Linked DNA regions of Homo sapiens. Each later gene encodes a partner of the first gene's protein in a complex. Each region holds a gene or a part of one and is shown in the gene's direction. Other genes may lie near its edges.

Region 1 (7,544 bases):
CCCAGGGAGGTCCCACCTGCTTCCAGAGTGCTCCTTGCTGCATTTACCCCTGCTTCTCCTAGTAGCTGCATGGAGGTTCTGCTGTCGACACCCCCCACCCCCACCCAACACCCTTGCCCTTCACAGGCACTTCCCGCAGCAATGAAGAGGCCAAACTGAAGCAAATTAAGTGGGCAGGGGCGGTCAGTGTTGGTAGAAAGGGGAGGCAACGCCTGTCTTCGTTGATGGTTAAGGAAGTTCAGACCCATCTGCATCTATTGAGGGGTCCCTAGTGGAGAAGTGAGAGGCTACAGTTCCTGACGGGATTCCTGCCCCTTTGGGAAAGCAACTTGGCAGGTGTTTTGAGAGGTTTTTTTGGACTGGGAACAAATCCCAAGGGAGAATCCAAAGGAGGAGGGGGCCTCAGATGTGCCAGGCTATTCCTGACAGCAAGAGGCTGCAATTGGCCATCGGGCCACAGACATGGCCCTGGCAAGCCTGAAGAGCTGCCTTAAAGCCATCTTTTGAGGCCATCGCCTGGAGCGGCTCCCCATGTGGAGTCAAACTGTGTCTGTGCTGAGATTAGGATCTAGTGTACTTCCCCAGATAGATGGACAGGTGCCAAGGGCATCCCAGAAACAGGGCAAGGGCAGGTGGTCTGTGGGGGCAGTCGCTAAGGGGGATAGAAGACAGGTTGTGAAGGAGCCACCTTGGGTCTTTTGGGTCTGTTTTTCCTCCCGGTGTCCTTACCCATGGCCTCTCCCCTGCCGCAGGGCTTTGGTGCTGTCTGGCCAGCTCCCTGCCCATCCTTCTCCAGCTCTTTTCTGCTTTCCAGCATGGAAGTCGGTCTCCAGCCCAGGTGGACACAGCTCGTTCTGCCACATCCTTTTTTGACCTCCCTGGGAGGCCACCTTAGGTGCTGCCCTCCCCCTGTGGCCTGCCTCCCTGCCCTGAGGGTTCATGCTGGACTTAGCAGGCCTGGAGTCAGAGCGGGAGCCTCCCCTCAGCCACATACGAGTCCTGGTGTCTCTGTCACTCACAGAGGGCCACCTCCATGAGAGTGGGAGACCTGCCACTCCTGGGTGGGGGGTCAGTTGGTTGTTAAGGCAGGGTCCCCAGGGCCAGGGTCAGAAGCCAGCTCCTATTTTGCTCCTATGGGACCAGCACCAATTGGGTGCTAAGTGTTCTTTGGGACAGACTGTGGCCATCTATAAAGAGGCTCTGTGGAGCCTTCTGGCTCAGTGTGCCTGGGGTCGGGGCCAGGCCCTTTGCAGGGATTCCTCGCTGCATTGCTCAGTGTCTGCCTCCTGGGCCTGGGAGGCCTGTGTCTGGATGCCCAGGTGGTGCTCCCCACACAGTGTTCAGACTGCTTGACATCAATGCCCCAGAGGTCGCAGGGCAGGGCAGTCTCACCTTGCCCCCATCCTTAGCTCTGCTGACATCACTGACTGCCTTCTGCTGGCTCCAGGGAGTGGCCGCACTGGACACTCACCCTCTCTCTGTGTCTTACACAACACACATTTATCATCTCAGGCTCTAGGGCTCAGAAGTCAGCTCCAGTCTCACCGGGCTGGGATCCAGGAAGCAGCGAGCTGCGCTCCTCTCTGGAGGATCCATTTTCTGCCCCTTCAGGTGTTGGCAGAGTTCATCTGTTTACGGCGTAGGACTGTGGGTTTCTAGCACCTTACAGGTAGAGCAGGCGGGCTCCTCTACTCCTCAGGTGAGCAGCTCACACGGTGGGGACAGAAAGGGGACTGCCAAGGCTGTAGCATTTCCCTTGGGGCTCCTAGAGGCTGAAGGCCTCTCTGCACACGCTTAAGCGTGGCTCATAAGGCAGGGGAGGGGCCAAGGGTAAGGATACACAGTCACAGGGCCCTCACACCTTCGCCTGGTGTCCCCAGCTCCCACACAGTTTCCAGGAGACTCTTGGGACTGGCTGTTAGTTCAGCGGTGATTTCTGGGGCACCAGCTCAGTACCAGACCCTGGGGTTGCCCAGGTGTTCTGTCTCCTCCCTCTTGTCTGGCAGCAGGATGGTGTCTGCCCAAGGACAAGGACACTTTGTGCCACCAGGCTAGCTGGGTCTGGGCAGTGTTCTGCTCTGCAAGGACTGCTGCTTCAGGAGTATGTGGGGAACCAGGGCTCCAAATATACCAGGGTGAGGTCAGCAGGGTGGAGGTGAAGCCATGTGGCAAGCCCAGGGACTGAGTCGGTGCTGGAGTGCCTGGGGCAGGGAGTGGTTGGCCTTGCTGTCTGTCTGGGACTGGCCTCCTCATCGCACAGTCTTCCCCTGCACTGATCCCTGCCCATTGCACGAGGAGTGCGGACAGGACTGTATCTCCCCTCATATCACCCGTCCACCCCCACCATGACACAGCTTGAAGCAGGGTTTTCAGGGTCATTTGGAGCCCTGAATGGAGAACATTGCAAGGCAAGGCCGTTGTTGCCAAAGAGCAAATGGGCCCATTGGCAGGGCAGCTTTGTGGGAGTTCTGCGGGGACTGCTGTCGTGGCTCTGCAACTTTACACCCAGAGGAGACAACACGGGAAGGGAGGGAGTGGCAGTGGCTGCCTCCCACTGGAAGTGGGGCAGAAGAGTAGAAAAGCCAGAATCCATGAGGCCAGCAGAATTAACAGCCCTCAAGGACGTCCACATTCTAGTCCTGGAGCCTGGGCACATGGTACCGTACATGACAGATGTGACTAAGGGAACAGCCTGGAGATGGGGAGGTGATCCGAGATCATCTGGGCAGGCCCTGCCTAGTCAGGGAGTCCTTAGAGATGGCACCTATCCTGGCTGGGTCAGAGAGATGCCGGGTGAGGACTCAGCCTGTAGCTGGCTTTGAGCATAAGGGGAGGGGGTGTGAGCTGGATGCAGTGCCCTCCAGAAGCTGGGAATGGCTTCGGATGACAACCAGCAAGAAAATGGGCCTCATTCCTGTAGTGTAAAGAGCTGAACTCTGGGCCGGGTGCAGTGGCTCACGCTTGTAATCCCAGCACTTTGGGAGGCCGAGGAGGGCAGATCACCTGAGGTCAGGAGTTCAAGACCAGCCTTCAACATGGTGAAACCCTGTCCCTACTAAAAAAAAATACAAAAATTAGCTGGGCGTGGTGGCGGGTGCCTATAATCTCAGCTACTCGGGAGGCTGAGGCAGGAGAATTGCTTGAACCCAGGAGACGGAGGTTGCAGTGAGCCGAGATCGTGCCATTGCACTCCAGCCTGGGCGACAAGAGTGAAACTTCATCTCAAAAAAAAAAACAAAATAAGAGCTGAACTCTGCTAACACCTGAAGGAGCAGGAAATGGATCCTCTAGAGAGGATCCCAGCCCAGTGAGACTCAGACCTGATTTCTGAGCCCTAGAGCCTAAGATGATAAATGTGTGCTGTGTAAGATGCTAAGTTTACAATCATGTGTTACGGAAACTCTTGCCACGCAGTCTTGGCAAGGATGTGGCCTGGTGGGAATGGAATAGAGCAGCCTCCCTGGGGGTGAGGTGACCACCCTGCATGGATGTGGAGCCCCAGCTCCTCCATGGCTGTCTGTGCACTAGCTCAGAGTCAGGTCTGTCACTGCCGTCGGTTGCAGCCTTATTTTGTAATGGCGGACGGAAAGTGCCTAAGTGTCCCACAGCATTCAAGTCGGGCCTTCCCCACTCTGGAAGGGATGGTGAGCCAAATGAGGGGCTCTGTTTGAGGCTGGACATTGCTGACATTAAGTCAGAAAAGGCAAGAACCACTGTCAGTTTGGTTTTGAAATATGTGATAAGTGTGGATGTATACGCCTATATACACAAGGGATATTTTTGGAAAAAAATGCAAGGAAATGCTACAGTGGCTGGGTCAGAGATGCCCATTTCCTTGTGTGCCCTTTTATGCTGTTTTAATTTGTATCATGTGCCCGCTTAACTCCTTTATCATGTTGGGGTGGGGGGGAGTTGAGTAATCTACTCACTGTGGTTTCCTCAGGGCCCCTGGGCTCCCACCCGCTAGCCAGCCCACCAGAAACCTGTAGTTGCTGGAGGTGGTGGTTGAGTGGTAGGAATTCTTGTTGTAACAATTAAGGGAGTCAGTAATGTGTGGGAAGTGCTTAGAACAAGGTGTGGCTCCTAGCAAGATCCTAAAAGGGAGGGATTACTTGGTCATGGGATGTGTTCATGCTTCACTCTGCCAGACAAAGCCCAGCAGTCCCCAAAGTCAGCTGTATCCCCCGAAGTACCTAGTGTTGTCAGTGGGGCACGTGTATCATGTATCCATTTGTGGGTTCAGTTTGAGTTTTCCTGATTATCGATAAAGCTGAGAGGCTGAGCATCAGCACTGACATTTCATTGCCGTGTGCCTGTTCCTGTCTTGTGGCCAGTCTACGCCGGGCTCCTGGTCAGCTGTACTGCTGTACAGGCATTCTGTGTTCCAGATACAGCTCCTTGGGGGCCTGTGGCCTATGCCTTCTCCCACTTTGTGACTTTCTGCTCTCTTTATGGTGTCTTTGGATTCAGATTGACTGGTTTATCATTATTATTATTATTATTATTTTTTACACGGAGTCTTGCTCTGTCACCCAGGCTGGAGTGCAGTGGTGTGGTCTCAGCTCACTACACCCTCCGCCTCCCGGGTTCAAGTGGTTCTCGTGCCTCAGCCTCCCAAGTAGCTGGAACTACAGGCGCATGCCAGCACACCCAACTAATTTTTGTATTTTTAATAGAGATGGGGTTTCACTGTGTTGGCCAGGCTGGTCTCAAACTCCTGACCTTCTGATCCGCCTTCGTCAGCCTCCCAAAGTGCTGGGATTACAGGTGTCAGCCACCGCGCCTGGCCTGTGTATTGATCTTTTAAGCTTTGTGGATTTTATTCGATGAATTCTTCCGTGTCTCCTCTCCCACTCCCATCAGATGGCAGAGTAGAGGTCATCTTAAGTATCAGGAGCAGCTCTTGTTCCACAGGCATCCTGGGTTTCAGCAGGTGGGTGGGTATGTACCATGTACACTGGAGGGCTTGGGGCAGCCCGCACACCACACACTGGAGGAGGTCAGACGGCAGGTGAGGATGAGCACTGGGTGCCAGGTTGGCCCAGGGAGCAGGTAGGAGACGACATGGAGTGGGGGCTTCAGTGCTGCTGGCTCCTCTTGCTCTGGGGTTGGGGAGAGACTGGAGCAGGCTGGGGCAGGGTGTTCCAGCCTCCCAGTGGAGAAGGACAGGGACCTGACAAATGGCTTTTTATTTCCACAGATCCGGAACATGGTGGCGGTGCTGGAAGTCATCTCCAGCCTGGAGAAATACCCTATTACCAAAGAGGCACTTGAGGTGAGTATCCCAGACCCCAGCATTTGGGAGGGCAGAACGGGGGGCAGGGGATGGTACCAACCAGGTCCTTCCGCAGCTTCTGGGAGCATCAGTGTCTTTGCTTCGGAGGACCAAGAGAGGCGGTGTGCCCTCACAGCTCGTGCCTCGCGATCTTGCTCTCCCACGGGCACTGCAGAGACCAAGTGGTGTTACTCCCATCCTACATGCCCAGCACACTTCGTGGGCACGTGGGGACATCAGGAGAGGTGTGCTTGGAGGAGGCTCCAGTGAGAGGCACCATCCCCAACCCTCCACTTGAAGCGGACCCTCTGTGCTGTCGCCTCGGCCACAGCACCCTCTCACCCAGGAAGCCTCTCTGGCAGTGTCCTTACAGTGGCCTTGATGGTCCACAGCCCCCTGACACCAGGAGCCTGGGTGACAGCACTGCTGAGAAGCCACCTGGGACCCTGAAGGTCTGGGAACTAGGTTTGAGAATTTATATTGTCACAAAGGACCGGAAATCCCCAGAAGTTTTGTGTCAGGGAAGCTGGCAGTTTAGGGCTCAGTGGGAACCGGGTCATTTCACTGTCAGGGCCACTTCCCACCATTTCTGGCTCAGCTCATGGAGAAGTTCCTGTCCCGAAAGTATGTCATCATCTCCCTCTGGTTGTAGGAAACACGACTTGGGAAGCTCATCAACGACGTCCGCAAGAAAACCAAGAACGAGGAGCTCGCCAAGCGGGCCAAGAAGCTGCTGCGGAGCTGGCAGAAGCTCATCGAGCCGGCACACCAGCATGAGGCGGCGCTGCGGGGGCTGGCGGGGGCCACCGGCTCTGCCAACGGGGGCGCACACAACTGCCGGCCGGAGGTGGGGGCGGCTGGCCCACCCAGGAGCATCCATGACCTGAAGAGCCGCAATGACCTCCAGAGGCTGCCCGGGCAGCGGCTGGACAGGCTGGGCAGCCGCAAGCGCCGGGGTGACCAGCGTGACCTCGGCCACCCAGGGCCGCCACCCAAGGTCTCCAAAGCTAGCCACGACCCCCTGGTCCCCAACTCATCCCCCCTCCCCACCAACGGGATCAGTGGGAGTCCAGAGAGCTTCGCCAGCTCCCTGGATGGCAGTGGGCATGCAGGCCCAGAGGGCAGCCGCCTGGAGCGTGACGAGAATGACAAGCACAGTGGCAAGATCCCCGTCAACGCCGTGCGACCGCACACCAGCTCCCCGGGCCTGGGCAAGCCCCCTGGACCCTGCTTGCAGCCAAAGGCTTCGGTGCTGCAGCAGCTGGACAGGGTGGACGAGACTCCGGGGCCTCCCCATCCCAAGGGACCCCCTCGCTGCTCTTTCAGTCCTCGGAACTCACGGCATGAGGGCTCCTTTGCCCGGCAGCAGAGCTTGTATGCACCCAAGGGCTCCGTGCCCAGCCCCTCACCGCGGCCCCAGGCACTCGATGCCACACAGGTGCCGTCACCGCTTCCACTGGCACAGCCGTCCACACCCCCCGTACGGCGGCTCGAGCTGCTGCCCAGTGCGGAAAGCCCAGTGTGCTGGCTTGAGCAGCCTGAGAGCCACCAGCGGCTGGCGGGGCCGGGCTGCAAGGCAGGGCTGTCCCCAGCCGAGCCCCTCCTGTCCCGGGCAGGCTTTTCCCCAGACTCCTCCAAGGCGGACAGTGATGCTGCCTCCTCAGGGGGCTCGGACAGTAAAAAGAAGAAGAGGTACCGACCTCGAGACTATACGGTTAACTTGGACGGGCAGGTGGCTGAGGCGGGCGTCAAGCCTGTCCGGTTAAAAGAGCGGAAGCTCACCTTTGACCCCATGACGAGACAGATCAAACCTCTGACCCAGAAAGAGCCAGTGCGGGCAGACAGCCCTGTGCACATGGAGCAGCAGTCCAGGACAGAGCTGGACAAGCAGGAGGCCAAGGCCAGCCTCCAGAGCCCCTTCGAACAGACGAACTGGAAGGAGCTGTCACGCAACGAGATCATCCAGTCCTACCTGAGCCGGCAGAGCAGCCTGCTCTCATCATCGGGCGCGCAGACCCCAGGGGCTCACCACTTCATGTCTGAGTACCTGAAGCAGGAGGAGAGCACCCGGCAAGGGGCCAGGCAGCTGCATGTGCTGGTGCCTCAAAGCCCGCCCACGGACCTCCCTGGTCTGACCCGGGAGGTCACACAGGACGATCTCGACAGAATCCAGGCCAGCCAGTGGCCGGGGGTGAACGGGTGTCAGGACACACAGGGTAACTGGTATGACTGGACGCAGTGCATATCGCTCGATCCGCACGGCGACGAC
Region 2 (7,544 bases), about 16 Mb from region 1:
CCACCATGCCAGGCTTCGGTTCCTACCATGCCCAGCTCTTCACCCACTGCCCCACATCCCCACTTAGCAGCTTAGCTTCTCCCTGCCTCAAGTCCCCCCTCATTTAGGAATGCTGACCGCAGCCGTCAGTTGGATGGAGGAGGGGATGTAAATCGTGCTGTGAGGGTACCCTGGCCACTAGCTGGGGGTGTGGTCGTCATGGCAGCTGCCTCCCCCGGCGCTGGGGCGTTGAGTTTCCTGTCTTTCCTATGAGAGGCTCAATTCCATGAGGGCCAGCCACCCCTGACCACTGTGTGCCCTCTGGGCGTCTCAGCCACTCTCTGGGCCTGTTTCCCCCCAGGGAATGCTGCTCACAGGACCCCTATACGGGTTTGCAGGAGGTCAAGGCTCTGTGACCGTGATGGCCCGTCCGGGGCAGAGACCTCATGATGCGGGTGGCACAGAGCAGCTGCGTGGTAGTCAGCTTCAGCCGAGTAACAAGCCAGCCCCAAACTGAGCAGCTCAGGCCAGCAGCCCTGCACTGTTTCTGTTTCTGTGGCTGCCTCAGCTGCGCTCTCCTGGTTCCCACGTGTCTGCGGTTAGCAGCCGAGGTGGCGTGGCCTGTCCACTGGCCGCACATGCTCCAGCAGGCCGGCTCCAGCTGCCCTCCGTGTCCCACATGCAGCCACAGCAGGACCCCCCACACGTGCTCTCTGGGCCACTGTTTTTGTTTTTTGTTTTTGAGCTAGGCTCTTGCTGTGTTGCCCAGGCTGGAGTGCAGTGGCGTGATCTTGGCTCACTGCAGCCTCATCTTCCTGGGCTCGAGCAATCCTACCTCAGCCTCCTGAGTAGCTGGGACTACAGGCGTGTGCAGGCGTGCATCACCACCACACACAGCTAATGTTTACTGTGTTTTTTTTGTAGAGAATGGGGTCTTGCTGTGTTGTCCAGGCTGGTCTTGAACTCCTGGACTCAAGCCATCCTCTGGCGTTGGCTTCCCAAAGTCTTGGGGTGGCAGATGTGAGCTGCTGTGCCCGGCCATGTCACATTTGCTAAGGCTTGGCCTGAGATTCCCAGAAGTCTCTGCCCTGTTGGGAGGAGCTGCGTCTTCACGCAGGGGCTGTCAGGCAGCGGATCTGTGGGTGCGACCATCCCGCATGGCTTTATTGGAATTGTAGATGAGGAGGGATGGGAATCCCGGCTGAGCTGGCTAAGGCCGAGCGAGTGTTAGGGTTTGCATGGCTGCAGGTCTGAGGTGGCGCCGTCTCCCCACTGTCTGCCCCATCGGGGGTGAGATGGTGCCGGCCCACAGGTTTCCATGAAATCCCAGGGCCCACCTTGGGTCACGTGCCCATCCTGGAACCAATGAGTGGCCGAGGCACGAAGCGCTCGGATTGGCCGGGCCTGGTCTTCTGGGCATGGGAGCAGGGCGGCATGAGACCTGGGAAGGGCCCTGGGCAGGTTGCACACCAGGCCATGCTGGACTCCTGCGGCTGTCTCAGCCTGTCTTTACTCCATTGCCTTCCTGTTTTCCTGCCCCTGATTTTTCAGTTGGCGACAAACAGCCCACAATTCTCAAATGGCGGATCCTATCGGCCACCAACGATCTGGACCGTGTGTCGGCCGTGGCGCTGCCCAAGCTGCCCATCTCGCTCACCAACACCGACCTCAAGGTGGCCAGCGACACACAGTTCTACCCTGGCCTCGGTACGGTGGAGCCAGCGGCAGCCACGCGGGGCCTCAGTTCACACCAGGGGAGTTGGGCCCTGAGCACAGGCCACGGGGTCGTGGGAGCTCACACCAGAGGACGTGGGCTCTGAGCACAGGCCATGGGGCTGTAGGAGCTCAGCCTTCTGGGTTCTGATGGGTTCCCAATTAGGAGGCAGATCTCATCTTTCGGGATCTGTGAGGCTGGCAGACAGATCCAGTGTTCTTTAATATGTAAAGAGTCATTGCAAATCAACAAGGGAGCCTGGGGAACTTGGTGGAACTCCTTCCTGGGTAGGCGGCATGTGTCCTCTCTGTGCTGCAGCAGCCATAATGTGGTCCTGAGCTCAAACCGTGGCATCCGTGCCCATGAGTGAGTCTGCACACTCTTCAGTGCCTACCCTATTTGCTCAGCTGTAAAATGTGGACAAGTCGGCCCTAGCTCAGGCCCTTTCTTCCCCCAGCTCCCGTTCTTCCCTGGTTCCCTGGAAAGAGCATTTATCAAAACCCGCTCGGGGCTCAGGGCTGTTCCTCAGAGCCTGCAGAGAGGTTGAGGGGATGCAGTTCCCTGCTCCAAAACCCTTGGTTTATGCTCCATTTTCCAGGCTCTATTTTTTTTTTTCTTTTTTTTTTTGAGTTGGAGTCTCATTCTGTTGCCCAGGCTGGAGTGCAGTGGTGTGATCTCGGCTCACTGCAACCTCCGCCTCCTGGGTTCAAGCGATTCTCCTTCCTGCCTCAGCCTCCCGAGTAGCTGGGACTACAGGCGCGTGCTGCCACGCCCGGCTAATTTTTTGTATTTTAGTAGAGACGGGGTTTCACCGGTGTTGCCCAGGCTGGTCTCGAACCCCTGAGCTCAGGCAATCTGCCCGCCTCAGCCTCCCAAAGTGCTAGGATTACAGGCGTGAGCCACCGCGCCCGGCTTTGCAGCCTCTCTACTGCAGGGACTCCTTTCATATTCTCTTTTCCATGAGCTTTGGGCTCTGGACCCCACCTCCCCCCGGCCCTCGTACAATGGCAGACCCCAGTGTGAGTGACAGCCCCAGCCCACCACCCTAAGATGCCTCTCTTTGGGACGCCAGGAGCCCCAACCCTTGGTCCCCCACCTGTAGTGCCCCCCTCCCCTGCGCTCCTTGAGGGGCGTGTCAGCCAGGACATGGGCCCAGCTGGGAGGGGCGGGGAGGGGCTGGGAGCAGTGTGGCCAAGGCTGCTGGCTCCTGCTCCCCTGGTGCTCAGGGACTGTGTAACTAAAGAAAGAGTGGCTGGGGGCACGGGCGCTGGATGCCGATTGGCGGGGGCTGACCCCCTGGATGGGCAGCCCCGGCTCTCCACACCCTGCAGAGCAGGAGGCCCCTCCCCCGGCGGGCGTGTCCTGGGCCCTGCCCATGTCTAAGCAGTGCCTGTGCCCCACAGGGCTGGCCCTGGCCTTCCACGACGGCAGCGTCCACATCGTGCACCGGCTCTCACTGCAGACCATGGCCGTCTTCTACAGCTCCGCGGCCCCGAGGCCTGTGGATGAGCCGGCCATGAAGCGCCCCCGCACCGCGGGCCCCGCCGTCCACTTAAAGGCTATGCAGCTATCGTGGACGTCACTGGCCCTGGTGGGGATTGACAGCCACGGGAAGGTGAGCTGCTGGGGCACGTGGGGCCGGGGCTGGTGGGCATTGACAACCAGGGGAAGGCGAGCTGCTGGGCATTGACAACCAGGGGAAGGTGAGCTGCTGGGGCACGTGGGGCTGGCCCTGGTGGGGATTGACAGCCAGGGGAAGGCGAGCTGCTGGGGCACGTGGGGCTGGGGCTGGTGGGCATTGACAACCAGGGGAAGGCGAGCTGCTGGGCATTGACAACCAGGGGAAGGCGAGCTGCTGGGGCACGTGGGGCTGGGGCTGGTGGGCATTGACAACCAGGGGAACGTGAGCTGCTGGGGCACGTGGGGCTGGGCTTGGGGGGCATTGACAACCACGGGAAGGTGAGCTGCTGGGCATTGACAACCAGGGGAAGGCGAGCTGCTGGGGCGTGGCCCTGGTAGGCATTGACAACCAGGGAAAGGCGAGCTGCTGGGGCACGTGGGGCTGGGGCTGGTGGGCATTGACAACCAGGGGAAGGCGAGCTGCTGGGGCACGTGGGGCTGGGGTTGGTGGGCATTGACAACCAGGGAAAGGTGAGCTGCTGGGGCATGTGCGGCTGGGGCTGGTGGGCATTGACAACCAGGGGAAGGTGAGCTGCTGGGGCACGTGGGGCTGGGCTTGGTGGGCATTGACAACCATGGGAAGGTGAGCTGCTGGGCATTGACAACCAGAGGAAGGCGAGCTGCTGGGGCATGTGGGGCTCGGCTTGGTGGGCATTGACAACCATGGGAAGGTGAGCTGCTGGGCATTGACAACCAGGGGAAGGCGAGCTGCTGGGGCACGTGGGGCTGGGGCTGGGGCTGGGGCTGGGGGGTATTGACAACCAGGGGAAGGCGAGCTGCTGGGGCACGTGGGGCTGGGGCTGGGGCTGGTGGGCATTGACAACCGGGGGAAGGTGAGCTGCTGGGACATGTGGGGCTGGGGCTGGGGCTGGTGGGCATTGATAGCCAGGGGAAGGTGAGCTGCTGGGGCACGTGGAGCTGCGGCCGGGGCCGGGGCCGGGGCCGGGGCCGGGGCTGGTGGACATTGACAACCAGGGAAAGGTGAGCTGCTGGGGCACGTGGGGCTGGGGCTGGGGCTGGGGCTGGTGGGCATTGACAACCAGGGGAAGGGGAGCTGCTGGGGCACGTGGGGCTGGGGCTGGTGGGCATTGACAACCAGGGGAAGGGGAGCTGCTGGGGCACGTGGGGCTGGCCCTGGTGGGGATTGACAACCAGGGGAAGGCGAGCTGCTGGGGCACGTGGGGTTGGGGCTGTTGGGCATTGACAACCAGGGGAAGGTGAGCTGCTGGGGCACGTGGGGCTGGGGTTGTGGCTGGTGGGCGTTGACAACCACGGGAAGGTGAGCTGCTGGGGCATGTGGGGCTGGGGCTGGGGCTGGTGGGCATTGACAACCACGGGAAGGTGAGCTGCTGGGGCACGTGGGGCTGGGGCTGGTGGGCATTGACAGCCAGGGGAAGGTGAGCTGCTGGGGCACGTGGGGCCGGGGCCGGGGCCGGGGCTGGGGCTGGTGGACATTGACAACCAGGGAAAGGTGAGCTGCTGGGGCACGTGGGGCTGGGGCTGGGGCTGGGGCTGGTGGGCATTGACAACCACGGGAAGGTGAGCTGCTGGGGCACGTGGGGCTGGGGCTGGTGGGCATTGACAACCAGGGGAAGGCGAGCTGCTGGGGCCCGTGGGGCTGGGGCTGGGGCTGGGGCTGGTGGGCATTGACAACCAGGGGAAGGTGAGCTGCTGGGGCACGTGGGGCTGGGCTCGGTGGGCATTGACAACCACGGGAAGGTGAGCTGCTGAGCATTGACAACCAGGGGAAGGTGAGTTGCTGGGGCACGTGGCGCTGGGGCTGGGGCTGGGGGGCATTGACAGCCAGGGGAAGGCGAGCTGCTGGGGCACGTGGGGCTGGGGCTGGGGCTGGTGGGCGTTGACAACCACGGAAAGGTGAGCTGCTGGGGCACGTGGGGCTGGGGCTGGGGCTGGGGCTGGTGGGCATTGACAACCACGGGAAGGTGAGCTGCTGGGGCACGTGGGGCTGGGGCTGGTGGGCATTGACAACCAGGGGAAGGCGAGCTGCTGGGGCATGTGGGGCTGGGCTTGGTGGGCATTGACAACCACGGGAAGGCGAGCTGCTGGGGCACGTGGGGCTGGGGCTGGGGCTGGGGCTGGGGCTGGTGGGCATTGACAACCAGGGGAAGGTGAGCTGCTGGGGCACGTGGGGCAGGGGCTGGTGGGCATTGACAACCAGGGGAAGGCGAGCTGCTGGGGCACGTGGGTCTGGGGCTGGGGCTGGGGCTGGGAGGGTGCCAGAGGGAGGCGCCCCCGGGGGAAGGGACCACAGGTGCAAGCCCCTCGCCAGCCCCTGCCTGCGCTGCCTTGTCTGTGTGATGGGTTCGTCTTGTTGAGCGAGGTCAGTGGGGTGGCTCACAGCACGTATTAGGAGCTTCGTAACTAGGAGCTGTTGAGAGGACCGCCTTTCACGGGGTAGACTCCTCAGGTAAAGCAGACGAGTGTAAGCCTGGCTCGGCATCCAGTGCAGTCGGGGCTCAGGGAGGTTTCCTTCCCTGTTCCCAGAGGCATTGTGCATGACCCTGACAGAAAGGTACAGACGCTACAGACACATGCGCGCACACAGGCCCACACACGGGCGTGCGCGCACACAGATCCACACACGTGCCGCAGCCCCAGGGCCCCATTCCTCTCCCGGCTGAGGGCGCAGCCCCATCTCACCGGGCTCTCCTTGGGCTCTGTCTCTGGCAGCTGAGCGTGCTCCGCCTCTCACCTTCCATGGGCCACCCGCTGGAGGTGGGGCTGGCGCTGCGGCACCTGCTCTTCCTGCTGGAGTACTGCATGGTGACCGGCTACGACTGGTGGGACATCCTGCTGCACGTGCAGCCCAGTATGGTACAGAGCCTGGTGGAGAAGCTGCACGAGGAGTACACGCGCCAGACCGCTGCCCTGCAGCAGGTGGGGGCCCGTGGCAGGTGGGGCCCCGTGGCAGGTGGGGGCCCTGTGGCAGGTGGGGGCCCCGTGGCAGGTGGGGCCCCGTGGCAGGTGGGGGCCCCGTGGCAGGTGGTCCCGTGCCAGGTGGGGCTGTCCCTGTGGCAGGCAGGGGCCCCGTGGTCAGTAAAGTGCCAGCAGCAGGGAGGGAGTTCCCTTGGAGGGTGGAGGAGGTCTCTGCAGCAGTTGTAGAGGTCCCCACGGCAGATGTGGGGGTTGTGGCAGCTGGAGGGGTTTCCCTGCGGCAGGTTGGGGGCTCTATGGCAGGCGGAGGGCAAGAGGGGCAGGTAGCCTGTGGCAGGTGAGGCTGCGTGTGGGGTGTGCTCCCAGAGGCCCGTCCAGGAAAGCTGCACCTCAGAGAAGCAGTTTCCTTCCTTACCTGGGAAGTTTCTTCTGTAACACGTTAAGCCCCACAGGTAAGGCCTGATCCCCCCTGGACGGCTCCCCTCTCCAGTGTTCCCAGTCTGGAGGTATCTTTCTAAGCCATCCTCTCAGAATGTGATGGGTACCAGGATGCACACCCGGTGGCCCTGTGGTGTGAGGCCTCAGCAAACACGGTCAGAAGATGAACACACAGAGACCCGCCCGTCGGAAGGAGAGGAGGGAGCGGATACGGAGGCCCACGTGCCAGAAGGGTCCCTTGCAGTGGTGTGGTTATGTGCCTGCAATCCCAGAGTGTCCTCGAAGGACCTCAGATCTAACGAGCTCAGCCGGCAGCTGCACGTGGGACCAGCCCTCTGAGCTTCACTTGTTTTCCTCTGTGCCATCAGAAACCAATACGAAGATAAAATGGGAAAAAAAAAATCCCATTCACGGCACAGCCTGCCGAGAAACGCGTGAGACCCAGGCGGGGGCTGCGAGGCTAAACCCCAGCGTGGCTGGGATCCGTAGCCAGTGACAGCGCTAGTGATGGCGAGACCTCGCCCTCTCCCTCCTTGGGCCGTCGCTGTGTGCCAAGCGTTTCATTTTTGTTTTTAGTTGTTTCTATTTTTTGTAGAGATGGGGTGTCCTACGTTGCACAGGCTCTCCAACTCCCAGCCTCCAGGAATCCTCCAGCCTCAGCCTCCCAAAATGCTTCAGCTCATTCATTCATTCTCTCTAGACCAGGGTCTCCCCGTAGGCACCACAGACATCGGGGGCTGGAGCAGCCTCTGGGATGGGGGTGTCCTGTTGAGCAGCCTCCCCAGCCTCCACCCGTTACTTGGCAGGGGCACCCCCAGTGGTGACAACTAAAAATATC
Region 3 (7,544 bases), on another chromosome or scaffold:
TTTCTTCCCTTTTTTTCTCCTCAGCCTTATTCACAGCATTGCAACCAGGGTGATAAAACTTGCTCATGCAAAGTCCAGTGTGGCCTTGGCTCCAGCCCTAGTGGAAACTTACAGTCGTTTATTGGTCTATATGGAAATAGAGTCTTTGGGCATCAAAGGATTTATCAGTAAGACAGGACTTTCTGGTGTTTATAACTATTAACCCATTCATTAACTCTAAAGTTACTTTTCTAGGTCCTGGGGACACAGCAGAGAACAAGTCACCACCATGATGGAGCTTATGGAGGAGGACATTAAATAAATGAAATATACAATATGTCAGATGATACATGTTATAGAGAAAAATAAAGCAAAAAGGAATAGGAAGTGTGAGGGTTGGGGGGTTTGTTGCATTTTTAAGTAAAGTGGTAAGAAAAGGTTAATGTGCTAGGTGCCTGGGATGCAGTGAGCAGGATAGACCTGGTCCCTGTCCTCATGCAAATGGATTCTGCCTGAGGCAGCAATGCTGTCCTCCAGTGCATACGAAGTCTGACTGGAAATAAAGAAGGAATTTTCCTACCTTGCAGAAGATACATTATAATGTCTCATTTATTATATAGTTCTAAAATAATAGATACTTTCTGATATAGAAGTGTTTTTCTGATTCATGGTAATTCCAGCTTTTCACGAATACAGCATAGTCTTAATTTTAACCACAATAACTCTTCTTAGATAACTGATTGTTGAACAAAACTTTCTTGGGGGTAGGAGGAAACAAGGGCAGGTATAATACAATTTTTTGTATTAAAAAGTGAACCTCATACTTCAAAAGGTATGGAACATTAATTGTCTAAAAATAAAAGATATCAGAATTGAGAAGATTAATGTTTTTTCATATCTTGTCTCATTTTATTTTTCCAGATAAACATGATTATCAATTGCCAAATCCCAGGAAAAAAGCAAACTTGATATTATAGTTAGGATCTGAATTTTTCCTTACTGTTAAAGTAGAAAATAAGAAAATATGGAGAATATATATGTGTGTGGGCGTGTGTATTTTCACAATCAAATCTTTATATTTTACTCAATGTGACTTTCTTCAAATATCTTTTCATGCATAGCCTTTAATAATTGGTACCTTAAATTGTCTTTTTCCTCCAGGTCAGCTTTTGCCAACTGTTTTCAAATCACATGCATGGGGGATCTTACACACACTCCTTGAGATGTTTAGCTACCGGATGCATCATATTCAGCCTCATTACAGAGTTCAGCTCCTGAGTCATCTTCATACTTTGGCTGCAGTTGCACAAACAAACCAGAACCAGCTCCATCTTTGGTGAGCTCATTGAAGACCATCTTTCCTTAAGATTTATTAGAAACTTTCTTGGAGATGAGGTTCTTAATCCTTTACCTTTACCTTATAGTTTTTTTTTTTATTATTATTCATCTGTCATAAAACTTCTCTGCTTCTAAAGTATTTTGTTTCCAGTATAGGAGCAGAGTCCAGCTTTTTAAATAGAAACTGATTAAGATAGTTGAGTCCTTCCTTCAGGATCTTTGGACTGAGAATTAGTACTTCCAGGGTATTTATTATTATGTTGTAACTTAGCCCTTTAGAATGCTGGTTTTAAGTATACTTCAGATTATGGTTAAAGTATCATGTCACATTGATTTTGCTTTACATTAAAATATATTTTAGATAGAAAAATATAATTTTTGAAATGCAGTATCTCCAGGTGAAATTTTTTAGTCCTATAGGCGACAAGCCATCTTTTTCAAATGTGTAAAAAGTCACGATTTTCACTATAAAATTGGACACATTAGGTTTTTTAAACAAATTAAGCAACATTTATTCTCACACAAAAGTGTTTTTTTAAAGAAGGGATAGTCATAGATTGCATGTTTTTCCATTGTAATTAACCTTAGATTTAATTCCATAATTCTGAAATTTTTTTACATTTCTTTTTATTCTCCCAATTTTCAGTGTCGAGAGCACTGCTCTCAGGCTTATAACAGCATTAGGTAGCTCAGAGGTACAACCGCAGTTTACACGCTTCCTTAGTGATCCCAAAACAGTGCTCTCAGCAGAATCTGAAGAACTGAACCGAGCCTTGATATTGACCTTGGCTAGAGCAACTCATGTAACAGGTACGGTGAATATGTGACTACAAACAACAACAGATGAATTAAAGTGTGCCATGATTCTACTAATTACTATAGTTGTAACATACTAAAAAGATACTTTTCATTTGTTTGAAAAAAGCCTGTTGTTTTGATATCTTCACTATTTCACTCATTTATGGAAGCTCTTTTGTGTACCATCATTCTATTAATAACTGCGTTGAGCATCGTTTTCAGCTATCCATAATTTTAAAGTAGTAATACTTTAAGCTTTTTGGTCTCAGGACTGCTTTACACTCTTAAAAACAAAATTGAAATTCCCAAAGAGTTTCTGTTTATATGGATTATATCTATGGATATTTATTATATTAGATATTAAAATTAAGAAGTTTAAAAATATTTATTAATTTGTTTTTAAATAGCAATAATAAACATTACATGTTAATATATGATGTTATAAAAAAAGTATATTTTCTAAAGCAAAACTTTAGTGAGAAGAGGTGCCATTGTTTGACATTTTTGCTTCTCTAATATCTGGTGTAAAGGAAGACATAGTTTGGATTCTCATCTGCTTAGACATTTAATCCATTGAAGTTTTAGTTGAAGTAAGTGAAAAATGTGGCCTCACACAGATGAGGTTGGAAAGAGAGGAGTATTTTAATAGCTTTTTCAGATAATTGGGAATGTTCTTTGACATCACATGGAAAAATGATAGTTGCTTAAAGGTTAGCTGCAATATGGAATCCAAAACCCCCAGTAAACTTCATGTACTTTGTTACATTATAATCTGTACATCTGTTTTATACATTTAGTGGATTTTTAAATCCATGCATGTTTTGTAACTTCATGAATTATTCATTTTGAAAATACTGGTTCACTGAGTTACGTAGATCTAGCAAACGTTGACATTTTGTTTATACAGTATCAGAAAATTACATTTGTTAATATCACTGCAAAGTTTATTAGAAAAATCTAAGTTTTGGAATGCTATCATGTCGTGGTAGATACAGGTTTTCCAAAATTTCAATTTTTACTTGAAAGGTCAAATTTTATCATTGGAAAAAGTTACTATCATTTGTTTTCCTTAAAGTGACAAGCTCATTTTGTTAATTTTCAAGAAAATGTCTGCTAAATACGTAAGTCTAGCTAGCTATAGTTTTCTGTCAGACGTTCTTTCAAGTAAAATTGGAATTCAAAAAAAAAAAAGCAGCTGATTTAACTCAGTGCTCAGTCAGTCACACAAGTGCACAAGTGTTTTTCCTCAAGACACCCATCAAACTTGGAACACTAGGCATATGCTTCCCCTTTTGTTACATATGATGTTAAAAATAGGTGTCGAGATTGACACTGGCACTTTTCTTTCACTGAGTGCATGTGCTGGAGAATACAAAGCCTTTTCATCTAGTCTGGCACCACTGTTTGATTTGTGCTTAGGACCAGCAGTTTTACCACCATTGCTTTTGTACCGTCAGTGCTCATACCAAGTGAAAAAGCCTGATATCTTTTTATTATTATTTGACCTCATTGAATCTTTGAAGGGCTATTGGGGAATCCCCAAGAGGTCTACAGACCACACTTGAGAACTGATGTTTTAAAGAGATAGTTATTGGTTTTAGCAACCTCAAATACGTTTATGTAAATTATTTTGTTTTACATAAAGAACCCTCTTCAATTCTGAGATTTATACATGCATTATGTAATTATTTCACTCACCAAAAAAGATATCTTTCTTTATTCTGTTCCCTTGGCCGAATAAAGTACTACTAAATCAGTGTCAAAGTAAATGAACAGTAGTGATGGGCTTGTATTACTGTTATCGCTGGTACTCTGTAACCTCAAAAAAAGAGATTTCAAATGTCTTTTGTCATCTTTTCATAAACTGTTCTCATATTTTCTAATGTGATCATCCAGATCATTCATAAACTAAGCAAATTTAGGTTCTAAGCTGAATATAACTAGTTAAGCAGTGAATGCACTGCAGTGAAATTCTCAGTGTACATAATTATTATTTTCGCTATAATCTTTTATGAATTGTGGATATAATCATTTATATCTGGATTACATCTATTTGTTTATGTTTAGATTTTTTTACAGGCTCTGATTCAATTCAGGGAACTTGGTGTAAAGACATACTTCAGACCATCATGAGTTTCACTCCTCATAATTGGGCTTCACACACCCTGAGCTGTTTTCCAGGCCCACTACAGGTAATTTGGTCTTGAATTACTTATTGAATGCACATGAAATCCTTCTTCCCATTCACAATGGTGTTCTAGAGTGAGTCTTGGTGACTTCTGAATAAAATTAGCTTTTATTTATTTTAAAAAATATTTAGGGGCTGGGCATGGTGGCACAAGCCTCTAGTCTTAACTGCTTGAGAGGCTGAGGCAAGGGGGATGGCTTGAGCCCAGGAATTCAGGTTCACAAGGAACTATGGTCACACCACTGTACCACAGCCTGGGTGACAGAGCCAGACCCTGTCTGTAGAAAAAAAAAAAAAAGTCATTACTTACAAAATCTCTCAAGTTGTTCTGTGTCCTACTCTGGTACTGGACATGTTTCTAAAAATTTAATTATTATGGTTTCATCTTAGTTAACAGTTTTAAGGGGAGGAAGAGTAGAAAGAGGAAAAAAATAAAAGTGAAAAAAATTGAAAAAGAGAAAAAAATAGTTAATGGTTTTAGAATCTCATGAAAATTAACATAGTACCTGAAAACTTTTTTCTCTCTCATAGAACTGAAATGGGGAGAAGTATAACGTAATGGAGCTTCACAGAGTGTGCGTAATATGACACTTCACTGAATTTTTTTCTTAATCACAGAAAAACTGTAAACCTGGCTTTTCTAATAAGGAGAAAGGCAAACCTCATCTGTCTTCTCCTTTTCAGAAAAAATGTTAGGCATGATGAACATCCATTTTTCATAACTCCTGGTAGGGCTAGAGCATTTGGTTTTTAAACTTACCAAATCACCTGGAGGGCTTGCTAAGCTGCAGTTGGCTGGGCCCCCAGCCACAGAGCTTCTGATTCAGTAAATCTGGGATAAGGTCTGAGAATTTTGCATTTCTTGTAAGACCCAGATGATGCTGATACCGCTGGTGTTGGGACCACACTCTGAGAATCACTGGGCTAGTGCAATGGATTTTCCTCAAAGACACTAACATATGTAGCCAAAGGGTAGAGACACTTCATTCTTTTTTTTCTTTTTAAGATTGGCGGAAGTATCAACAGATGATTGAAGAAGCTTTGAATTCAGGCTTACTTAGAATTTCCATTTAGGAAATCTAGGAAAAGGAATCTTGGAGATAATCTAGTCAAGCTTATGTATTTTCCAGACACAGAAATTCAGGCCTTAATTGCTGAGTTGCTCAAGGTGACCTAGAGTTTATTAGTGTCAGAATCAAGTCTAGAACTGGTTTATTAACTCCATATCCAGTGCTCTTTCTACTATAACCAATGAAATAAACTTCTAATCCTCTTTTTAGGCATTCTTCAAACAAAATAATGTGCCTCAGGAAAGCCGTTTTAATCTGAAAAAAAATGTGGAGGAGGAGTATAGGAAGTGGAAGTCAATGAGCAACGAAAACGACATTATTACCCACTTCTCTATGCAGGGCTCCCCTCCTCTCTTTCTTTGTCTTCTCTGGAAAATGCTCTTGGAAACAGATCATATTAATCAGATTGGCTATAGGTAAGTCAAAAACCTAATTTGCATTCCATTTGGCAAATTGTTGTATCCATACAACAATGGAGTTTATGTTTTACTCTCTGCCTTCCAGAGTATTAGAGAGAATTGGAGCCAGGGCCTTGGTAGCCCATGTGAGGACATTTGCAGATTTCCTGGTATATGAGTTTTCTACATCAGCAGGGGGTCAGCAACTCAATAAATGCATTGAAATTCTTAATGACATGGTATGGAAGTATAACATTGTTACACTGGACAGATTAATTCTCTGCCTGGTAAGAATAAATACATTTCTAAGCTTATTCTCTTAGATCAAGATGTATGACTAATATATGTTATGCCAATCTGCTCTATATTGCTTTGAAGGATTTAATGAATTTATACTATATCAAGCATTGCTGTCACTTCCCTAAAGAGCCGGAAATTTTCCAATTTCTGTTTTTGTTTGTTTTTGTTTTTTTGTTTGTTTTTTGAGACAGGGTCTCGCTCTGTCGCCCAGTGCAGTGGCGTGATCATGGCTCACTGCAGCCTCAACCTCCTGGTCTCAAGCAATCTCCTCCTGCCTCAGCCTCCTGAGTAGCTGGGAGTACAGGCATATGCTACCATACCCAGCTAGTTTTTTTTCTTTTTAACTTTTTTATAGAGATGGGGTTTCTCCATGTTGCCCAGGCTGGTCTCGAACTCCTGGGCTGAAGCAATCCTCCCTCTTCAGCTTCCCAAAGTGCTGGGATTACAGGCGTGAGCTACTGCTTCCAGCCCCAATTTCCTTATTCATTCATTTAATAAGTACATATTGAATATCAACTGTGTTCTATGTATAGAAGGTACAGAAGTAAATAAAATAGATGTGGTCCTAGCCTTGTGATACTTTGAAAATATGAGCAATTAGACCCTGAGTTGATTCTCCAAAACTCCCACTAGAGGGAGGAAGTAGCAGTAAGTCACTGTGTTTCTTTACAGAGTGCGAATATAACCATTTCTGTACACTTTGGTAACAAACATTCCCCAAATGTTTTTTTCTTCTCCTGACTTTGATGTCTATTTCCAGCAGAATTTTTTTTTTCTTTTTTTTTTTTTTTTTTTTTTGATATGGAGTCTTTCTCTGTCGCCCAGGCTGGAGTGCAGTGGCGTGATGTTGGCTCACTGCAAGCTCTGCCTTCCGGGTTCACGCCATTATCCTGCCTCAGCCTCCCAAGTAGCTGGGACTACAGGTGCCCACCACCACACCCGGCTAATTTTTTGTATTTTTAGTAGAGATGGGGTTTCACCGTGTTAGCCAGGATGGGCTCAATCTCCTGACCTCGTGTTCTGCCCGCCTCGGCCTCCGAAAGTTCTGGGATTACAAGTGTGAGCCACCGCGCCTGGCCTTCGGGTAGATTTCTTTAAAAAGATATTGAAGTAGGCTGGAAAATGCTACATTGAAAAAAATTCTATGGCGGTGACATTTGGAGTGGCATAGTTTAACGTTAACCCCTTAGCTGTGGAGCATAGATATAAAAGTAGTTATTATATTTTAGGGGGAATAATGTAAGTCTATAAATCAATAAGATGTCAGGATAAGATGGAGGTGTAGAAAAAATATTTCTAGGAAACAGTGAGAAATCTTATCTGCTTAGGTGATAGCTGTGAAAGATAGATTAAATTTTTAAAAGTAAAGATGGACATCCCAGGCAGAAGGAATGGTAAGCCAGAAATAGGCAAGAAAGGTCATATATGTTTGGGGAATACTGAACAGTTGGTTTGGGATAGACTAGACGTCTA
Region 4 (6,339 bases), on another chromosome or scaffold:
TGCCTGCAGGACCGTTTGCACCTTTTCTGGCTTTTTATCCATTTAATAATCCAAAGAACAGACTTTTAAGAAAAGTAGACTTCAACGAATATTGTATGTATGTAGATTTACAGACTCAGTGTTGGAAGCCTTAGCCACCAACAAGTTTAATCTTACCCACAACGTTGCCGAGAGATGGTCATCTACACTCTGGAGGTTTCCATTGAGCCCGTGTTACTCTGTCAGGGACAGCTGATTCGATTGTTAGCCAGATATTAGAAAGTTCTTCCTTATATTGTGATATAATGTACCTCCTTGTAGCCCCAGTCTGTTTGTCCCTGGATGAAGCTAGAACCATTCTATACCCTCTTGAGGACAACAGCCTTCCAGATATTTACATTCAAGAGAGACTGCAAATTAGCCCCTTTTGGGTGTTTTATTCAGTCTGCAGAAGATTTTAGTTTTTTTAATACTTGCCAACATTTAAAGATCAGAAAGTTGTATATAACAAATGCAGATTTCCAGCTACTCTTTCAAATCTGGAAGATCTAGTAACCATAGATCTTAATTCTCCCAAGTCAACAACTGGGCTGAAGCTGAGAGCAGCTGTCACTACTAGCTGCTTTCCACCTGGTGGAAGAGACACTTTCTACCACTTGGCCTGCTTCATTGATAGCCAGTAGGTGCCACTATAACATCTCTCTTCCATCTATTTTTCTCAACTACCCTCTGCCATTGTGCCATGGTGTCCAGAGTTCTCATGAGTTGAGGTTCCCTCCTTTGGATATTTGGCAGTTGTACTTTATGCAGTTCAGCCAAGAACTAAACACAGGCCTTCAGGTGTGGTCAGAGTACAGTGGGCCAGAGGTCCTTTCTTTTCTTCATGTGGTCATACACCTCTGTTAATTCAACTTAAGTTTATATTACTTTTGGGGGTGGGAGTGGGGAAGAGGATCACATTGTTGACTTGCTGGAAGCATTATGTCAACTAAAATCCTTCAGTTCTTATTTTCATCATGCTGTTGGGTTCTCCCTATGTTGTTTCTTTTTAAAAACACCAAATGCAGAACTTCCCTTTTATACTGCTTCTATTTCATCTTGTTGACTTGTAGCCTATCAGAGTATGATTCTTTATTGTCATCTAAGGTATTCTGATATAATCACTGCATGTCTAAATTCTAGTTATTGACTAAATGCTACTTGAGACCATTCTCTTGGTTGTCACATTATTTTACAGTTGAAGAAACTGAACCTTAGAGAGGTTAAGTACCTTGTTAAAGGCCACCTGGCTGGAACATAACATCCTGGTCATTTTAACTACTAATGCTGTCATGAAAGGGAGTTAGCCAGGGCAGGTGTGAATAGAGCATTCTAGCATAAGCAGCCAACAATTAGAGCAACTGTGTATTTTTAGTGTGTGGATAGCAAATCTTTGCTGTCTTGGAAGTTACTATCTTAGAAGCATGGTATTAAGCCCTCTATTCAATGTGGTGTTCACATCAGTAGCATTGGTTTCATTTGGGAGCTTTTTAGAAATGCAGAGCTCAGGCCCCACTCCAGGCCTAAGGATTCAATCTGCATTTTAAGAAGTGACCCATATACACATTAAAGTTTTAGAAGCATTGCTGTAGTATCCTATTTTCCACACTTTAGTCATTTGCATATCACTTGTGCAACTTTGGCTTTATCTGCATACTTCCTGAAGGGGGCCTGCCCCTCCACACCTGTGGGTATTTCTCGTCAGGTGGAGATGAAAGAATGAGAAAAGAAATAAGACACAAAGTATAGAGAAAGAACAGTGGGCCCAGGGGACCGGCACACTCAGCATGCGAGGACCCGCACCAGTGCCGGTCTCTGAGTTCCTTCAGTATTTATTGATCATTATTTTTACTGTCTTGGCGAGGCGAGTGTAGCAGGGCAACAGGTGGCGAGAAGGTCAGCAGGGAAACGTGAGCAAAGGAATCTGTATCATGAATAAGTTCAAGGAAAGGTACTGTGCCTGGATGTGCACATAGGCTAGATTTATGTTTCACTTTACACAAATATCTAACTAGCAGAGAGCAACAAAGCAGTATTGCTGCCAGCATATCTCGCCTCCAGCCACAGGGCGGTTTTCTCCTATCTCAGAATAGAACGAATGGGAATGGTCGACTTTACACTAAGACATTCCATTCCCAGGGACGAGCAGGAGACAGAAGCCTTCATCTTATCTCAACTGCAAAGAGGCCTCCCTCTTTCACTACTCCTCCTCAGCACAGACCCTTTACAGGTGTCGGGCTGGGGGATGTAAGGTCTTTCCTTTCCCACGAGGCCATATCTCAGGCTGTCTCAGTTGGGGGAAACCTGGACAATACCCAGGCTTTTCTGGGCAGGGGTCCCTGCGGCCTTCCGCAGTGCATTGTGTCTCTGGTTAATCGAGAATGGAGAATGGCGATGGCTTTTACCAAGCATACTGCCTGCAAACATATTGTTAACAAGGCACATCCTGCACAGCCCTAAATCCATTAAACCTTGATTCAATATAGCACATGTTTCTGGGGGCACAGAGTTGGGGCTAAATTTACAGATTAACAGCATCTCAAAGCAGAACAATTTTTCTTAGTACAGATCAAAATGGAGTTTCTTATGTCTTCCTTTTCTACGTAGACACAGGAACAATCTGATCTCTTTTCCCCACACTTCCTATATGTTAATGTATTTTAATTGTCTGTTAGCTTTTATGTCTTTTCAACTTGAAATAATTTCACTTACAAAATAGCTGGAAAAATAGTAAAGATAATTCCTGTATTTTGTTCACCCACGTATTCCAAATGTGTAACACTACAATCAGCAAAAATCAGCACATTAATATTATTACCTAATCTACAGACCTCATTCACATTTTGCCAGTTGTTCTGCTGGTGTGCTGTATGTAGTGCAGGATCCAGTCTAGGCCCGTATGTTGCATTTTGCTGTCATGTCTTCTTAGTCTCCTTTCATCTCAGTGGTCTTTTCTTTTCCATGACTATGACAGAAATGATTTGTATCCTTCATATATCTGCAGTCACATGAAGTCTATTTGTCCCACTACTGGTGACGTAAATTTTGGTAACTTGGTTGAGGGTGGTACCGTCTAGGTTTCTCCATATTAAGTTGCTATTTTTCCTTGTGTATTTAATAAGTATCTTATAGGGAAATCCTTTGAGACTATGTAAATATCATATTACATGTATTTTGCCTGTTTTAGCATCTTTTGAAGATAATTGCCTGAAACATTTTTTACTGTGATGATTTTCTAATTCTATCATTCTGCATTTATTAGTTTGGAATTCGATTGTAAGGAATTATATTCCCTTGTTTCCTATTATTTTATTAAAGAAATTTACATCCATTTAGTGTGGACTTTTGGATTCTTATTTTTAGTAGAATTATGAATTAGAATTATGTATTTTCTTGCGCTAAGTATTCCAGATTTGGCCATTGGGAGGCCCTTCAAGTTGGCTCCTGAATACTTTTGATCCTCCCAGGAATTTTTAGCACTTTTTCTTCTGGCACTACGTAATGTTCCAGGCTCATCTTGTACTTTTCCTGTCTTATCCCTGAATCACCCTTTTCTCCAAGGAAACCTGCTCCTTGGAAACCACAGTCTGGTCATTGTGTGTTCATTAGTACCACAGTGTCATTGCTTCTAGGCCCTGTCAGTACACAAAGCTCAAGAACTATATATATATGTATGTATGTGTATACATGCACACACATATACATGTTTATTCTATGTCTATATTAAAAGCCGTAAGTACATACTGATGTTTTCAATACCAGCTCAGTAACACAGGGTTCATTCTAGCCTTTTTCCTTTCCATGTCTATAACTCCTTTTCTGATAGCCAGAAATTTGGCTGTCCTTATCCACAGTATATTTGCTTGTCCAATCCTAGAGTATATCTAATTTCAGAATTGGTATATCCCTGTGGACAACAAGAGTACAATGTATGCGCATAGTCCTCTTTCACACTCACTTTTAAATGAAAGTTGTCTTTTTATCCCTATTGAAGGAAAAATGAGTAACTATCAATTAAACACATAATTACTAAAATATGTTCATGTTCTTCACGTTGGAAACCGCTAGAAGGGAATAGCATGGTTTGTCCCTAAATTTTCACTCTGCTTACCAGTTACTGTGTTGTGTGGTCTTGAGCAAGTTAATTTAATCTTTCTGAACTTAAACCTTCTCATTTTCGAAAATATTGAACACTGACCTTTGATGACTAATCGGGGAAAAAACCCTATGCTACCAGAGTGTACTAAGTTACTGTTATAGAAATGGTAGGCTACAAGATCGTTTTTAAGAGAATAACTGAATTATACCTTGGCATTATTTACCTAAATTATGTTGTTCATTCACTTACAAACTTAAACCCAGGTACCCTCAGTGTTTACACATGTTAGAGCTGCTCCAATATGAACACTTCCGAAAGGAGCTGGTGAATGCTCAGTGTGCGAAATTTATTGATGAACAGCAGATTCTACATTGGCAGCACTATTCCCGGAAGCGGATGCGCCTTCAGCAAGCCTTGGCAGAGCAGCAACAGCAAAATAACACATCGGGAAAATGAAAAACTGGATACAAACGAGGCACTTAATACATGTATATAATGTATTTCTTTTGTACAGTGAAGACAAAAAAAATGAAAACTCTTCCTATCTACCTTTATTATGGTAGCCCCTAGAACCTTTAGTGTGCTTTTTCATCCAACTTTTTATTGTTAATAGACTATTTCTGTTAAACCTGAATTGTTCTTTGATTTCCCTGTGGATTTGTAAGGTGTTTTTCTTTTTTACGCATTTAGCATAATCAGCTGATTAAGAATGGAAAAGTTAGGTGCTTTAGACCAAATAAGGCACTGGGGCATGGGGTAGGGGTGGGCCACCAAGTATACTGAATTCTAAGGCTAGCTGTTCCTGACATATAGTAGGGCAAGACCATCTCCTGGAACCTTACTGTCTCAGATCAACTACTCTACCACTCTACTCTAAGATGTAGTGAGAGTAGCGGAGTCACTGACCTCTTTAAATCATAGGACAGGAACTGCATAAAGGTTCTTGAATTCTGCAGGACAGGAAATAACTGTATTACCTGCTTTGCAAGGTGGCTTTAAGAATCACTGAATCACTGTGGCCTCACTTGACCTAGTCATGGCAGGACAACTAGTGGTTAGTTACTAACTGGACTCTTGACTTTAGAACAAACATGAGGAGCCTCAAATACTTGTGTTCATTTGGGAAAGCTACCATTGATTTGGGAGGTACCACAAACCAGGTGCTATGTTAAGTGCTTCCTTGAATTCTCATTTTATTCTAAGAACCTTGTTTATAGAAGAGAAAACTGAGGTTTGGACGGGGTGAGTAACTTGCCTGTGGTTACACAGCTAGTAAGTGGTAGAGTCAGTGTGACTGACTCCCAGCTTGGAGTTCTTCCCAGAACTGGGTTATAGAGTCTTTCCGGCCGCTCTCCGCCACCTGCCTCATCCCAAGTAAAGCACATTGAGACAGCTGCAAAACAAACTGCTTCTAGTGCTCAGGAGTCTGTTTTTTATTAAACAAAACAAAACTGCCTGAATTAAGCAGAGGCTAGATTAGAGGTCATGTGCTTTCCTTCAGTGGTGAGGTTAGGTTCTACATTCCAAAATCAAAGAAGGGGTTTCAGGAATATCATCAGTTGCTTTGCAGATGGAGATAACTTAAAATAAAAGATACTGATCTTTTGAGAGATTTGGAAGGTGTGCTCTGCACCTTTAGGAGTTTTTAGGTATTTCCGTCACCTTCAAGAATACGTTCCTTTGAGCCTTTACTGCTATTTCTGAAGACTTCTTTATATCTTAAAAATATCCATGTATTACAGGCAAACTAAAGGTTCATGGGCATTTTAATAGCACTCTATTGTTTAGACACATGCCAGTTTTTTTAACATCATTTATTGCTAACATGAATTCAAAGCAAGTATACAGTTTATTGATACTAGAACAAATCAGGACATCAAGACATGATTGCCATCCTAAAATCTTAATCTTCAGAGAACAACATTTCCACCAGGTTGGCCTGAAGACACTCAGATTCTACCAGTTTTTGAGGCTGTAAGAGAAAAACAGTCAAATCTTCACTACTTCTATAAAACGTTATTAGGAGTGGAATGAGTTCTGCCTTGAATGACACTCATCTTTGAACACAGAAATTACGCAATTCAGAAACTATCATCTAGTTATAACAAGTTTTATGAAAGAATCAATATATTTGCTGTAAGATGAATCACTAACATACTTGGCTCAAGAGACTTAAACCCCAAATACCAGGAAGCTCCACAGACTAAAACAGGAGACAGCAA

The links.
Region 2: MED26 (region 1) and MED16 share a complex: the UniProt entries of both Homo sapiens proteins name them as parts of the mediator complex.
Region 3: MED26 (region 1) and MED23 share a complex: the UniProt entries of both Homo sapiens proteins name them as parts of the mediator complex.
Region 4: MED26 (region 1) and MED31 share a complex: the UniProt entries of both Homo sapiens proteins name them as parts of the mediator complex.

What each region holds. Positions count from the first base shown.
Region 1 is NC_000019.10:16,576,066-16,583,609, reverse strand, and holds part of MED26 (mediator of RNA polymerase II transcription subunit 26), read left to right. Parts: intron 1-4,795; exon of another isoform or gene 4,796-5,200; coding exon 5,201-5,275; intron 5,276-5,336; exon of another isoform or gene 5,337-5,444; intron 5,445-5,927; coding exon 5,928-7,544. UniProt on the Homo sapiens protein: Component of the Mediator complex, a coactivator involved in the regulated transcription of nearly all RNA polymerase II-dependent genes.
Region 2 is NC_000019.10:875,701-883,244, reverse strand, and holds part of MED16 (mediator of RNA polymerase II transcription subunit 16), read left to right. Parts: intron 1-1,530; coding exon 1,531-1,686; intron 1,687-3,096; coding exon 3,097-3,308; intron 3,309-6,064; coding exon 6,065-6,271; intron 6,272-7,544. UniProt on the Homo sapiens protein: Component of the Mediator complex, a coactivator involved in the regulated transcription of nearly all RNA polymerase II-dependent genes.
Region 3 is NC_000006.12:131,596,801-131,604,344, reverse strand, and holds part of MED23 (mediator of RNA polymerase II transcription subunit 23), read left to right. Parts: intron 1-24; coding exon 25-167; intron 168-1,140; coding exon 1,141-1,315; intron 1,316-1,963; coding exon 1,964-2,127; intron 2,128-4,182; coding exon 4,183-4,307; intron 4,308-4,834; coding exon of another isoform or gene 4,835-4,840; exon of another isoform or gene 4,841-4,878; intron 4,879-5,583; coding exon 5,584-5,789; intron 5,790-5,877; coding exon 5,878-6,058; intron 6,059-7,544. UniProt on the Homo sapiens protein: Required for transcriptional activation subsequent to the assembly of the pre-initiation complex. Component of the Mediator complex, a coactivator involved in the regulated transcription of nearly all RNA polymerase II-dependent genes.
Region 4 is NC_000017.11:6,642,701-6,649,039, reverse strand, and holds the end of MED31 (mediator of RNA polymerase II transcription subunit 31), read left to right. Parts: intron 1-4,380; coding exon 4,381-4,573; 3' UTR 4,574-5,729; downstream 5,730-6,339. Other genes in the region: TXNDC17 (thioredoxin domain-containing protein 17), read right to left, coding at 6,021-6,089. UniProt on the Homo sapiens protein: Component of the Mediator complex, a coactivator involved in the regulated transcription of nearly all RNA polymerase II-dependent genes.